Linked DNA regions of Homo sapiens: all the other regions are reported to be linked to region 1. Evidence: microRNA targets listed by miRTarBase, many of them from high-throughput screens and not tested one by one. Region 1 holds a microRNA gene; each other region holds the end of a gene's coding sequence.

The links. Region 1 holds the annotated microRNA hsa-miR-15a-5p (UAGCAGCACAUAAUGGUUUGUG, at 1,283-1,304, shown strand). A microRNA usually pairs through its seed, bases 2 to 8, with sites in the 3' UTR of a target mRNA and lowers its output. Matches are read on the target gene's strand: a 7mer-m8 pairs with bases 2 to 8, a 7mer-A1 pairs with bases 2 to 7 and ends in A, and an 8mer does both.
Region 2: the mRNA of PI4K2B is a reported target of hsa-miR-15a-5p. Seed matches in the 3' UTR shown: 7mer-A1 at 687-693.
Region 3: miRTarBase lists TTC1 as a target of hsa-miR-15a-5p. Seed matches in the 3' UTR shown: 7mer-m8 at 529-535.
Region 4: miRTarBase lists PAFAH1B2 as a target of hsa-miR-15a-5p. Seed matches in the 3' UTR shown: 7mer-m8 at 1,131-1,137.

Annotation. Positions count from the first base shown.
Region 1 is chr13:50,047,204-50,050,470 of GRCh38, reverse strand. It overlaps MIR15A (microRNA 15a), which reads left to right and starts at 1,270; the gene lies at 1,270-1,352. It overlaps DLEU2 (deleted in lymphocytic leukemia 2), which reads left to right. Exons shown (of 14, transcript NR_152566.1): 6 at 809-887. MIR16-1 (microRNA 16-1) reads left to right here and starts at 1,410; the gene lies at 1,410-1,498.
Region 2 is chr4:25,276,977-25,279,976 of GRCh38, forward strand. It overlaps PI4K2B (phosphatidylinositol 4-kinase type 2 beta), which reads left to right. Exons shown (of 10, transcript NM_018323.4): 10 at 38-2,228. The coding sequence ends at 211. Among named protein-coding and RNA genes, the nearest start is that of ZCCHC4, 34 kb to the right of the region's middle.
Region 3 is chr5:160,064,578-160,067,844 of GRCh38, forward strand. It overlaps TTC1 (tetratricopeptide repeat domain 1), which reads left to right. Exons shown (of 8, transcript NM_003314.3): 8 at 355-966. The coding sequence ends at 488. It also overlaps a transcript of PWWP2A not described here. Among named protein-coding and RNA genes, the nearest start is that of PWWP2A, 53 kb to the right of the region's middle.
Region 4 is chr11:117,167,217-117,170,216 of GRCh38, forward strand. It overlaps PAFAH1B2 (platelet activating factor acetylhydrolase 1b catalytic subunit 2), which reads left to right. Exons shown (of 6, transcript NM_002572.4): 6 at 205-3,000. The coding sequence ends at 483. Among named protein-coding and RNA genes, the nearest start is that of SIDT2, 10 kb to the right of the region's middle.

The DNA of each region.
Region 1 (3,267 bases):
AAACTTGAGACAATAAGGAGCAGAGTTATATGTGAAATCCAGGTTGCTTAGATAGGAGATTAGCTACATATATTTTTTATTAATGGGAAAAATACTCAGAAAAATTTCATATGGAATGTGACCCTGTGCTTTGTATAAGTAATTAGATATTAGAATGGAAGAGCAAATTTTAGTGCTTTGGTTGTGTACATCACCTTACTATTCTGTAATAGATGTAACTTTAGCATAGTCATTTTAATGATGAGAACATGGGGCAAAAAAGATTGTCCAGGCTTGAATGGTGGCACCACTAGAGTGGTGGCAATTTTCTGATATCTTTTAGAGAAAAGGAATTTCATTTCTACATCTGAGAAAGTGGAAACTAGGAGTTTCTTCCTTACCTGGTAAATGGGCCAGAAACAGGGAATAGGAAGATTAAGAGCTATGGGATTTGTTTTATTTCTCATCTCAGGGTACCAAATTAACTCATCATCCCAAGGATTCATATTTTAGAATTACTTAAGGATTCATATTTTAGAATTACTGTATCAAATGATATCCAACTCTAAGAGAACTTCTAGTATGAAGATCAATGTTGAAAGTAAAATATTTAGATTATTAATAACAAATTATTTAAGGGAGAATTAGTTTGTTTAGAGCTTTTTTTCTTAACTATATTTGGAATTAAAATGTCTTAATTAGATATTTAATAAAATTAACATTTAGAATTAAAGTATTTTTCTTTAAAAGTATATTTGCATTTTGCTAGCTTAAGTTTATTGAAACTGAGCTCTTGTATGTCATTTCATGTTTTTCCCTTGATGTGAAGTCTTACCTATTTGATGAAGATGTCTTTTGAAAGGTGTACTGCAAGGAACAAAATGTTTGTAAATTCTCCTTTTACCAAGGTAAAGATCAAATTTTATAAATTTACTTGTTTGTTTATACAAGGAAAAATAACTTCATATATTGAATATATTCAAAAGTTTAAGCATTTAGTTGTATTGCCCTGTTAAGTTGGCATAGCAAATAAATGCTTTTCTTTTCCTCATTTTATTCTTTGTGTTTCCTAACCTATAGCACTGTGCTGGGCACAGAATGGACTTCAGTTAAGTTTTTGATGTAGAAATGTTTTATTATTCTACTTAAAATCTCCTTAAAAATAATTATGCATATTACATCAATGTTATAATGTTTAAACATAGATTTTTTTACATGCATTCTTTTTTTCCTGAAAGAAAATATTTTTTATATTCTTTAGGCGCGAATGTGTGTTTAAAAAAAATAAAACCTTGGAGTAAAGTAGCAGCACATAATGGTTTGTGGATTTTGAAAAGGTGCAGGCCATATTGTGCTGCCTCAAAAATACAAGGATCTGATCTTCTGAAGAAAATATATTTCTTTTTATTCATAGCTCTTATGATAGCAATGTCAGCAGTGCCTTAGCAGCACGTAAATATTGGCGTTAAGATTCTAAAATTATCTCCAGTATTAACTGTGCTGCTGAAGTAAGGTTGACCATACTCTACAGTTGTGTTTTAATGTATATTAATGTTACTAATGTGTTTTCAGTTTTATTGATAGTCTTTTCAGTATTATTGATAATCTTGTTATTTTTAGTATGATTCTGTAAAAATGAATTAATACTAATTTTTCAGATGTATCATCTCTTAAAATACTGTAATTGCAATTTAATAATTGTATTGAATGCCATCAAGTTTTTTTAAAAAGCTTATGCAGCATTAGAGGAATTTATTTTAATGCACATTTATATTCAACATAGACATTAATTCAGATTTTTACTTGGGATAAAACAAATTCTAGTTTTCCCTTTGTTTTGAAATTACTTTTAAAATATGTCTTTACAGATAAATATAAAATATATTAAGCATTTTGAACAGAGCTTAGAAGACAATATTTAGTACTGTTTCTGAATATTTCTTTATATCTGAAGGGGAAAAGCCATCAAAATATGTGAATTAAATACCTAAAATTCTGGTTGTCAAAACGTCACACTTAACCATAACTTTAAAGGTAGAAAAACCCTTACAAGTGACCAACCCACTCATTGGATAGCTAAGGAAACACAAAACTCAAATAATTTGCTACACATCACAGATTGGGGTCTTAGTCTTATGTCTTCTAACTTTATAATGGTATACTATTTTTTTCATGTTTTTATTAAAATGTTTTCTTAAATCCTTAGCCAAAGATTTTTGTTTGATAAGTCAAAAATAAGGTCTTGTTTACTTTGTTTACTTTTTTGTATTCAAGATTTAACTCAGAGTAAGACCAAATTATCATTGTAGTTTTATTGATATAAAATGTCAACATAATTTAATTTTTTTTTTTACTTTTTTGTATTTTTAAAATTTTTTATTAAAAATAAAAGTAGACAGCCAGGTGCGGTGGCTCACGCACTTTGGGAAGCCGAGGCAGGCGGATCACCAGGTCAGGAGATCAAGACCATCCTGGCTAACACGGTGAAACCCCATCTCTATTAAAAATACAAAAAAAATAGCCAGGCGTGGTGGCGGGCGCCTGTAGTCCCAGCTACTCGGGAGGCTGAGGCAGGAGAATGGCATGAACCTGGGAGGCGGAGCTTCCAGTGAGCTGAGATCGCACCACTGCACTCCAGCCTGGGTGACAGAGGGAGACTCTGTCTCAACAAAAAAAAAAAAAGAAAAGAAAAGTAGAGCTGGGCACAGTGGCTCAAGCCTGTAATCCCAGCACTTTGGGAGGCCGAGGAGGGTGGATGACGTGAGGTCAGGAGTTCGAGACCAACCTGACCGACATGGTGAAACCCCATCTCTACTAAAAATACAAAAAATTAGCCGGGCGTGGTGGCACATGCCTGTAGTCCCAGCTACTCGGGAGACTAAAGCAGGAGAATTGTTTGAACCGGGGAGGCGGAGGTTGTAATGAGCCCAGATCGCGCCATTGCAATCCAGCCTGGACAACAAGAGTGAAACTCCATCTCAAAAAAATAAATTAAAATGTAAAAATTAAAACTAAATAAATAAATAAAAATAGAGACAGGGTCTCACTATGCTGCCCAGGCTGGTTTCAAACTCCTGGGCTCAAGCAGTCTTGCCTTAGCCTTCCACTGTGCTGGGATTATAGGCATGAGCCACCACCCCTGGCCTAATTTAATTAAAATCTGAACAAAAGGCCGGGCACGGTGGTGGCTTATGCCTGTAATCTCAGGCCAAGGCAGGTGGATCATGTGAGGTCAGGAGTTCGAGACCAGCCTGGGCAATGTGGTGAAACCCTGTCTCTACTAAAAAT
Region 2 (3,000 bases), not on the chromosome of region 1:
CTTTTTAAATTGGTAAAAATCTCTCTTCTTCCCACAGATCTTAAACCTTACTCAGGCATTGAGAGACGGGAAGAGTCCTTTCCAGCTAGTACAGATACCTTGTGTGATTGTGGAACGCAGTCAAGGTGGAAGTCAGGGTCGGATTGTCCACCTGAGCAATTCCTTTACCCAGACTGTCAATTGCAGGAAGCCATTTTTTTCCTCCTGGTAGTAAATGTCAGAGTAAGAGAAACAAACTGTTTAGAATTATCATGTTTTTAAAACATCATAGTAATATAAATCTGCTGTTAGGAGCTCCAGTTGCTAAAACCTCAATTTAAGTCTTTAAAAGGTTGTATTTTGAATGTAACCAAAAGTTTACAGTTTTTTGTCCAAATATTAAATTTCTATTTCAGGGAAGAAGTGCTATATCTCCTATATTGTATTTTTGTAGAAAATTTGTATTTTATGTTGTTGTTAGTTTAAAAGGTAATTTTACACATGCTGGAATGACTGTAATTACTCTAGAATTCCAAGTAGAATACAATAACTTTTAATATTGAGAAGAATGTTCATGCTAATTCTTCTTACATTACAAAAGGCCTTTGAGGATGCCTACGTCTGAAATTGCTCTTACGAACTTTAATAAAATAGTTAGCTAATAGAAAAACAGGTAAGAATAAAGCAATGTTGCCTTAATTTCAAAAGCTGCTATTTTAGAATTTGAATAAGTACTCCTAAAGTGACCATTATTAGGGACCAGAAAATTATATCTTGGCTAAGTAATAGAGGACCATTTTGGTTTTTGTACTTGAGAATATTTTTGGTGAATTACTTTGTTGTAGTGAGGAAAAAACCTAAGAAATTTCCCCTTTTTTTAAAAAATGGAAATATTCAATTGAGACTTGAGGGGAATAATAGAAAATTAAGGTAGATCCCCAATATTTTGGAATACCAAAATTGCCTTAAAAATTCCCTTCTGTTTCTTACATGGGATCAAATACTTGAGATTAGTACTTCAGAGTACTGGCCTTGTTCAATTTAGTACTTCAATTAGTATTAAACTTCACTAAAAAGTAAACCATACTCCAAATTGTATATTGGATTGCATTTTGGGGTCCTAGGTCATACGTTCTTCAAAATTATTATGATTGTACTATTGTACTTGAAATTACAGATGTTATTATAATTACAGTCAAATGTAGACTATCAGGCCAAATTAAAGGGGAGCATGGCAGATAACCATAAAGTCATTTATATTTGATTTTGAAATGTATTTTTGTACTTTATTTTGAATATCATCCATATGTCTGACATTATTGGAATTTGTAACATTGTTAATGCACTAAGTGATTTAAATTCAATTGATGAAGATGTGATTTTACAGAAGCAGAAGTTTCATTTTCTTGAGGCTTAAAACCAATGTCACCACTTGGGCTTAACTGGGTAATTTGTGGTCTAGGCCTTTTGTTTTCTAAGCTTACTATCTTGTGTTTGTTTATTTGCTTTTAATGAAGTATTTTGTGTAGAAGGTTAAATTAGGATGCAAAACAGATCTGCCATTCCTTTTTCCCTTATATCTTCCTTTTGGTCTTCATGGACGAGATGAATGAGGATTCTGCTGCCCTGAGGGAGTTCATTGGAAACCTGCGTTCTCCTACCTCTTCCAACCCTCCATTAGCTCAATTTTGAGATAATGGAAAATTGACTGGAAATTCAAAACTCAAACTACTATCTTTAGATATAAACACTAGTAATTAAAATGTGCCTTTTGAAGATGTTTTCTAAGAGAAAGGAAATACGTTGCAGTGATGTGGGTACTGCTTTCATAAAACAGTTTTTTCAGTATTTTGAGAATTGCCATATTAATTTTTATAATGGAAAACTTAATAAATTGCTACTGTTTTATATCATAAAATTAAAATACCATGGTAATATTTGCAAAAGGTCTGGCCATACCAGAAAAGTACAGTTGAGATAGTTAAGATATAACCACAAGTCAGAGTACATTGGTTGTATTTTGTAAACTTTCATGAACTGAATTCTTATTTAAATAGTATGGTTTTTTTTCAATAAGTATATTTATAGTGACAAATGTGGTAGACTAAAGGTAATAAAAATCATTGTCTTAAGATTATGTTCTTCTGTATGTACGTGTTTGGAATATTTAGAATGTTTATGAACACATTTACTATAAATGATGCCAAACTATCATTTTCTTCATATATTAAAGGTATAGTTTAATTCTTTTTTTTTTTTTTTTTTTTTGAGACGGAGTCTCACTGTGTTGCCCAAGCTGGAGTGCAGTGGCATGATCTCAGCTCACCACAACCTTCATCTCCCAGGTTCAAGCGATTCTCCTGCCTCAGCCTCCCGAGTAGCTGGGACTACAGGCGTGTGCCACCATGCCCGGCTAATTTTTGTATTTTTAGTAGAGATGGAGTTTCACTATGTTAGCCAGGCTGGTCTTGAACTCCTGACCTCAAATGATTTGCCTGCCTCGGTCTCCCAAAGTGGTGGGATTACAGGCGTGAGCCACCACGCCTAGCCTAATTCTTTATAATTCCAAAAGATATTTAACTGAAACCTTTATAATTAAAGACATCTTAATTGTACTTAATTAAATATGCCACCACCTTATCACCCCAAAATTTGTCAGCAATTGAAGACTGTTTGTGGAGACATGGTTTTTGCATACTTGAAGATAATTTGATTCACAAAACTTTTCAAAAATTTGAAATACTTTGGGCAGCCGAGGTGGGCAGATCACCTGAGGTCAGGAGTTCGAGACCAGCCTGGCCAACATGGCAAAACCCCATCTCTACTAAAAATACAAAAATTGCCCAGGCGTGGTGACACACACCTGTAATCCCAGCTACTCAAGAGGCTGAGGCACAAGAATTATTGAACCCAGGAGGGAGGGTGGAGGTTGCAGTGAGCCGAGATCACACCACTGCCTTCCAGCCTGGGTGACAGAGTAGATTCTGTCTCAAACAAACAAACAAACAAACAAACAAAAAA
Region 3 (3,267 bases), not on the chromosome of region 1:
CTCACTGGAACAGCAGTTGGTTTTCCCAGAACTCACCCCAGAAGCCTGTGTCCTCTGATAGCACTGGCCAGTTAGGACAGGAGGCTTTGATTCCCAGAGAGAGCCAGCAGGACTCCACTCTCATCTATGCAAGCACAGGCTGAGGGTGGATGGCATTAAAGTGACTGCACTGCTGAGTGGGGAATAGGGGCTGGGAACTCTCCTGGAAGCTTTCATCATATTAAAAGTAGGCATTTCTTTAACTGCAAAGAGATACTTTTATATTTTGTACTCAGTGGTAAGGCAAGATTAATTGGTACCTTCCTGCTTCTGTTCATTCCTGTATTCATTTGAGTTTTTGCTTTTACATTACAGGTAAATTAAAAGATCTTGGGAACTTGGTTCTCCGACCTTTTGGGCTCTCCACGGAAAATTTCCAGATCAAACAGGATTCCTCTACCGGCTCGTACTCCATCAATTTCGTTCAAAATCCAAATAATAACAGATAACAAAGATAACAAAAGCTTTACAAGCTGACTTGGAATTGTGTGCTGCTTGCTGTTAGCTAGGGGAAAGGCCCTGCCAATGTTTAACTTTTAAAAGCATCTTATCTAAAAGAAAGGCTATCCAGTAGAGCCCAGTGCTCCCTTGTCCCTCTTTTATGATCAGGGTGAAATGTACTTCCTGATGTAATGAACCTAATTTGATTTCCATTTTAAGGTGGTGTCTGTGCAGCTGGTGTCCCCGATTCTGGCTGTCCTATGTCCAGGAAGAAGCCCATTTGTTGAGGCTGACCTTCCTGATCATACACACACACAGCCCAGCAAAAGCCTCTCCTGAACCAAACAAACCTGTTGGTTGGGAGACTGCCCAGACATGATTGATGACGGGTTCCCGCCTGCTGTCCCCTCCCTGATCACACAGCTAACGAGGCTGCCTCCAGCATTTCCTGATTTCCTCTGTGGTAATAAAAGCTTTCTGTGCTTAGGTCTGGGTTAGGTTGTGAATTTTGTCACGTAACGACAACTAAGGCAGAAGCCTTCTCTGGCTTTGGGAGCAGTGTTGGTTTCAAGCAGGGTTACTGATTCCAGATTCCACAGATCTGCCCAAAGTTTTTGTTGCCTTGAAGATTTATCTTGAAGAGTTGACCATTCTACCATGTACTAGAATTCAGAAAGTCCACCTTACAAGCTATCTTGGGCCCCTCCAGGTTTGTATAGATAATTATAAATCTGTGTTTGACCAAATGTTAATATTTTTAACTTAAAATAGCTTCATTGAGGAATGGTAGTATATGAACCCCAGAACAAAACCATATTCTTTTAAACTACATGAACCTAGAGGTGTCAAAGATAGAATTTTTTTGTGCTCATCAGTTGATGCTAGTGAGAAGCTTGCAGTTGCTCTGGTTTGAGTCTCAAAAGCTTGACATGCAAGTTTCATCTTGGATGTAAATTACACATATAATTCTGTAAGTGACATGCAGTAGTCAGTCATACTCCCAGTGTTAAGGACTATGTGGTTCTTCTCATCTGTTCCTAAAAGCTTTTTATCTTTTTTCTTCTTTTGGTCAAAGTGAACCTCAGAAGAAACTGTTAAATCTGGCATCCAATTTTCCTGAAAATGTGTGTGTGAAAAATCACACAAGTTGTATGGAAACCGTGTGGAATGCTGGATGGTCTGGTAGTCAGTGTTCGGTGCTTCCTGTGCAGCCAGCATTATGCTAGAAAGTGGTTCTCATTTTTTTTTTTTTTTTTTTGAGGGGGGTCTCGCTCTGTCACCCAGGCTGGAGTGCAGTGGCGCAATCTTGGCTCACTACAACCTCTGCCTCCCAGGCTCAAGCAATTCTCCTGCCTCAGCCTCCAGAGTAGCTGGGATTACAGGCATGCACCACCACACCTGGCTAATTTTTTGTATTTTTAGTAGAGACAGAGTTTCACCATGTTAGCCAGGCTGGTCTTGAACTCCCGGCCTCAAGATGATCCACCCACCTTGGCTTTGGATTACAGGCGTGAGCCACCGTGCCCAAACTTTTATTTCAGCAGCCCTTCATAGTCTGGAAAAAAAAATTTTAAGAGCATTTCCATTTATGTGCATTCTATCAATATTTAGTATATTAAAAATTAAGATAGAAAGTGTTAAAGTAATCCCTTTGAAAAATAACATGTTTCCTGTTACTATAAATACTTTTATGTCAGGCCAGGAACGATGGATGGTTTATACCTGTAATCACAGTACTTTGGGAGGCCAACGCAGGAGTATTGCTTGAGGCCAGAGATCCAGACCAGCCTGAGCAACATAGCAAGGTTCCATCTCTACAAAAAAAAGTTTAAAAAAAAAAATTAGCTAGGCGTAGCGGCTTCATGCTACTTGGGAGGCTGAGGCAGGAGGATTGATTGCTTGAGCCCAGGGGTTCAAGGCTGCAGTGAGCTATGATCCCACTGCTGCTCTTCATCCTGGGTGACAGCGAGACCTTGTCTCTAAAAAAAAGTTTTACTGAAATTTTTACAATTTTTATGGAAAAATCTTCCAACTCAAAGACACATTTTAGTGAGAAGAATGACATTTTTGCACATCTCTTTAATGCATGGCTTGATAGAGAACAGCAAGAGTCTCACATCTCTTATATTCAGTTTGTCCTGAGATCACAGTGCAGTCACTGACAAGATAACAGTGAAAAAAATAGACTCTTTAATTTTGTATTATGAAAACAGTTTTCATAAGACAAAATTTTGTCTTATGAAAATAGCTTTCATAATACAAAATACAGATAGACACCTTGAAATGGTCTCCAGAACACCTATGGATCCTTGGACTACATTTTGAGAACTACTGTCACATCGTGCCTTGAGCTCAATGGCTGAGACTTAGCAAAATCAGGGCTGAGATTCCAGAAGGACTATCTGTGCCTCCAAGGAATAGGAAATAGACTTGTTCGTCTAGAAACAGCTTTGGTTAAGAGAAGATGCCCGAGACTACCATTGCCACGAGTGTAGAGGTTTTGTTTCTTAGGCTTCCTCCTCCTCTTCCTCTCAATCACACTGAAATCTTATAGGATGCTACACAAGGCCAATATTACATGCTCCCAGTGGGTGGGCCAAGCAGTGCATTGTCTGGAAAGGAAAGGATCCCAGTAGGTGTGAGCTTGCTTAAGCCAAGGAGTTTTTATCTGGCACTGTTACTTTGCTGCTTCCAACATTTGTAAGAAAAGATATATTCAAACCTTTTGAAAATGTTTGACCATAGAAAATCTTCAGACTTCAAAAGTAGAAAGTAAGTGTTAAGGAA
Region 4 (3,000 bases), not on the chromosome of region 1:
GTTAAGGGACAGGAGGAAGGGAACCCATGAAAAAACTAAGAAGAAATGGTTAGCTTTCATTCAAAACAGTATTTTCCAATGTTTCACAACTCAAAGGTGTAGAAAGTGCCAAATGGAGATGTTCCAGGAATATCTGAAGTTATAAATAATAAGTAGAGAAAAATAAGTGAATCTTCTAATTTAATGTTTTCCACTGTGCCCCAGGGTTTGTTACCTCGAGGTGAGAAACCCAATCCTTTGAGGCAAAAGAACGCCAAGGTGAACCAACTCCTCAAGGTTTCGCTGCCGAAGCTTGCCAACGTGCAGCTCCTGGATACCGACGGGGGTTTTGTGCACTCGGACGGTGCCATCTCCTGCCACGACATGTTTGATTTTCTGCATCTGACAGGAGGGGGCTATGCAAAGATCTGCAAACCCCTGCATGAACTGATCATGCAGTTGTTGGAGGAAACACCTGAGGAGAAACAAACCACCATTGCCTGACTGGCTCTTATCAGTGTTAATAGCATCTCAGCTTCCTCAGATCAGTTCTATCACTGGCACTACAGAATCCTTCTCTTTCTTAAGGCACTTTGCATTGTAGAATGTTCCTGGATGTTCATATCTAGTGTTTGAAGGGGAGGAGGGATTTAAACTGGTCCTGTACATAGAAGGTTTGTTTGACAGAGGAGAAAAATTAGCCAAGGAAGATTGTTGTTTAAATTCATTTGAAACCAGAAGGGGACTTTTTAGTTGTATGTGTAACACATTCATTGAATTATTATCACTGTTTTCTTGGGACAACATCAAGCCTAAATACTGAACAATATGAAGATTCTTTTCTTGGCCTTTCTGTGGATTATGTCATATATAATAATTATCAGAATCATTCTACTTGGCTTTAAAACATGTTTTCTCCAATTTTTTTAAGGTTCATAATTTAGCCTTTTGTTTTTATGTTGCTTAGATTCTTATGTATACTGAATATTTTATTAACATGTAGCATCAGGTTGAACATGCTTGTCATTGATATATGGAAGATGCTATAGTTAGAAGTGAATTTGTTCTGCTTTCTTAATCTTTTCCATGCTTAGCAGTGAAAAACAGGTTTTGCCCCAGTAGAGGGATTCTTTGGAGGGTATTATTTTTTATGCTGCTGAATATCATGTCTATAATAGACCCGTGCATGCAGCCTTTCCTCCTTATTCCCCTTCATGCCCCCCTTTCCCCTTCATTCCCCCCGCCACCCCGTTTTTTTTTTTTTTTTTTTTTTTTTGGTTCTTGTTGACATTACAAGCTTTTAACACATTTTTGACCTAGGAGCCCTGTTGCTGGAAGTATAGTCTCCAGCCAGTTACTCTCATGATAGTACTGCTATAAAACTCATTCTTGTGTGGTGTTCTGTGCTATAGATTCTGTGTATTGCTGTTCATATTCGGAGTTCTGGTTTTGTTTTTCCCTTAAAACCTGTTAACAGTTTTTTTTGGGGGTGGGGGGATTCAGAACTCTTGTTTCCCATTCCATAGCACCTGACATTATTTCAAGTTTTATAATATCTTAAGGTGTATATTTTATTTTTTTTATTGGCTTAGTTGTTTTTTGTTTTGTTTTGTTTGAGATGGAGTTTCACTGTTGCCCAGGCTGGGGTGCAATGGTGTGATCTTGGCTCACTGCAGCCTCCACCTCCCGAGTTCAAATGATTCTCCTGCCTCAGCTTCCTGAGTAGCTGGGATTACAGGTGCATGCCACCATGCCCGGCTAATTTTTATATTTTTATTAGAGACGGGATTTCGCCATGTTAACCAGGCTGGTCTCGAACTCCTGACCTCAGGTGATCTGCCCGCCTTGGCCTCCCAAAGTGCTGGGATTACAGGCATGAGCCACCGTGCCTGGCCTTATTGGCTTAGTTTTTAAATTATCCTCCAAAAATTTTGGGCCTTTTTCTGTGGGGAAACAAGTGAAGCTGCTCTTCAGCATAGACACTACCTTTATCCCATCATTTTAGTAAAAACTAGGTTTGTTTCACTTCTGAGGTGTCTTATTAATGTACTTCATCTGAGAATTTGTTGATCTTAATGTTCGAGCTATATAAGAACTGCCATTAAAAAAAATGGGATAATAGATGATTTTATCAGTATACCTGTGGAATATGTACAAACTGGATCTATAGATATTTTGAACTGGACCAGGTGGGTATTGAAGTAACCCATCAAAATATGCTCTGCAGTGATTCCGCTTAATGTTTAAATTCAGTAACGTACTTGAAAGGCAAATTTCAGTGCTTTTGTATGTTGGAGGAGGGCTTACTGATGCGTGCTAAGACCGATTTCTGATTGAGGGATGAACCTTGGGCTCATTTTTTTCTTGTGAAGTCTCTTTCTAGAAAATTTTTTGGTTTTGTTCTTTTTAAAAAATACATACTTTTTTGAATGTATCATGTCTTCATTAACAACAGAAAATCCACATGGTGTTTACTAAACTTGTTTACGACATTAAAAATTTCCTTTTTATTTTTAGTAGCCCAGGTTGAGTTTTTCACAAGAGATTTTTTTCTTAGCTGAGGTATAGTTGTATAGCAAGAAGAATTAAGCCAGATTTTTGTGTGTGGAAAGACAGTTTTCTATCCACGTCTTTTTCTGTTTGTCAGAAGGTGGGAGTATGGTCCAAATAAATCCATTAGGTTACTCCTGCAGCATGCGCTTTTAGCTTCTCTCTTGACTGAGGATCAAATATCCCTTTGTGAGCTGGCCCTCAGCTCCTTTGCTCATGTGTACAAACCTCAGATGTTACTACATTTTATATCTACCAGAGCTATTCAAGCAATAGTATTTGAACCACTAGCCTTTTAAATAAAATTCTGCCCCATTACTGATGTGCAGATATTGAGTTCACTTTCATTTTTTGCCAGATTTCTTTGCACTACTTTAGGTAAAAATAGTTAATCTATTTTTCTTTGACATCCTAGTTTGCGTCAGTGACAGAACTTACTGCTTAGTCTTTGTACTTTTTAAAAAATCTATA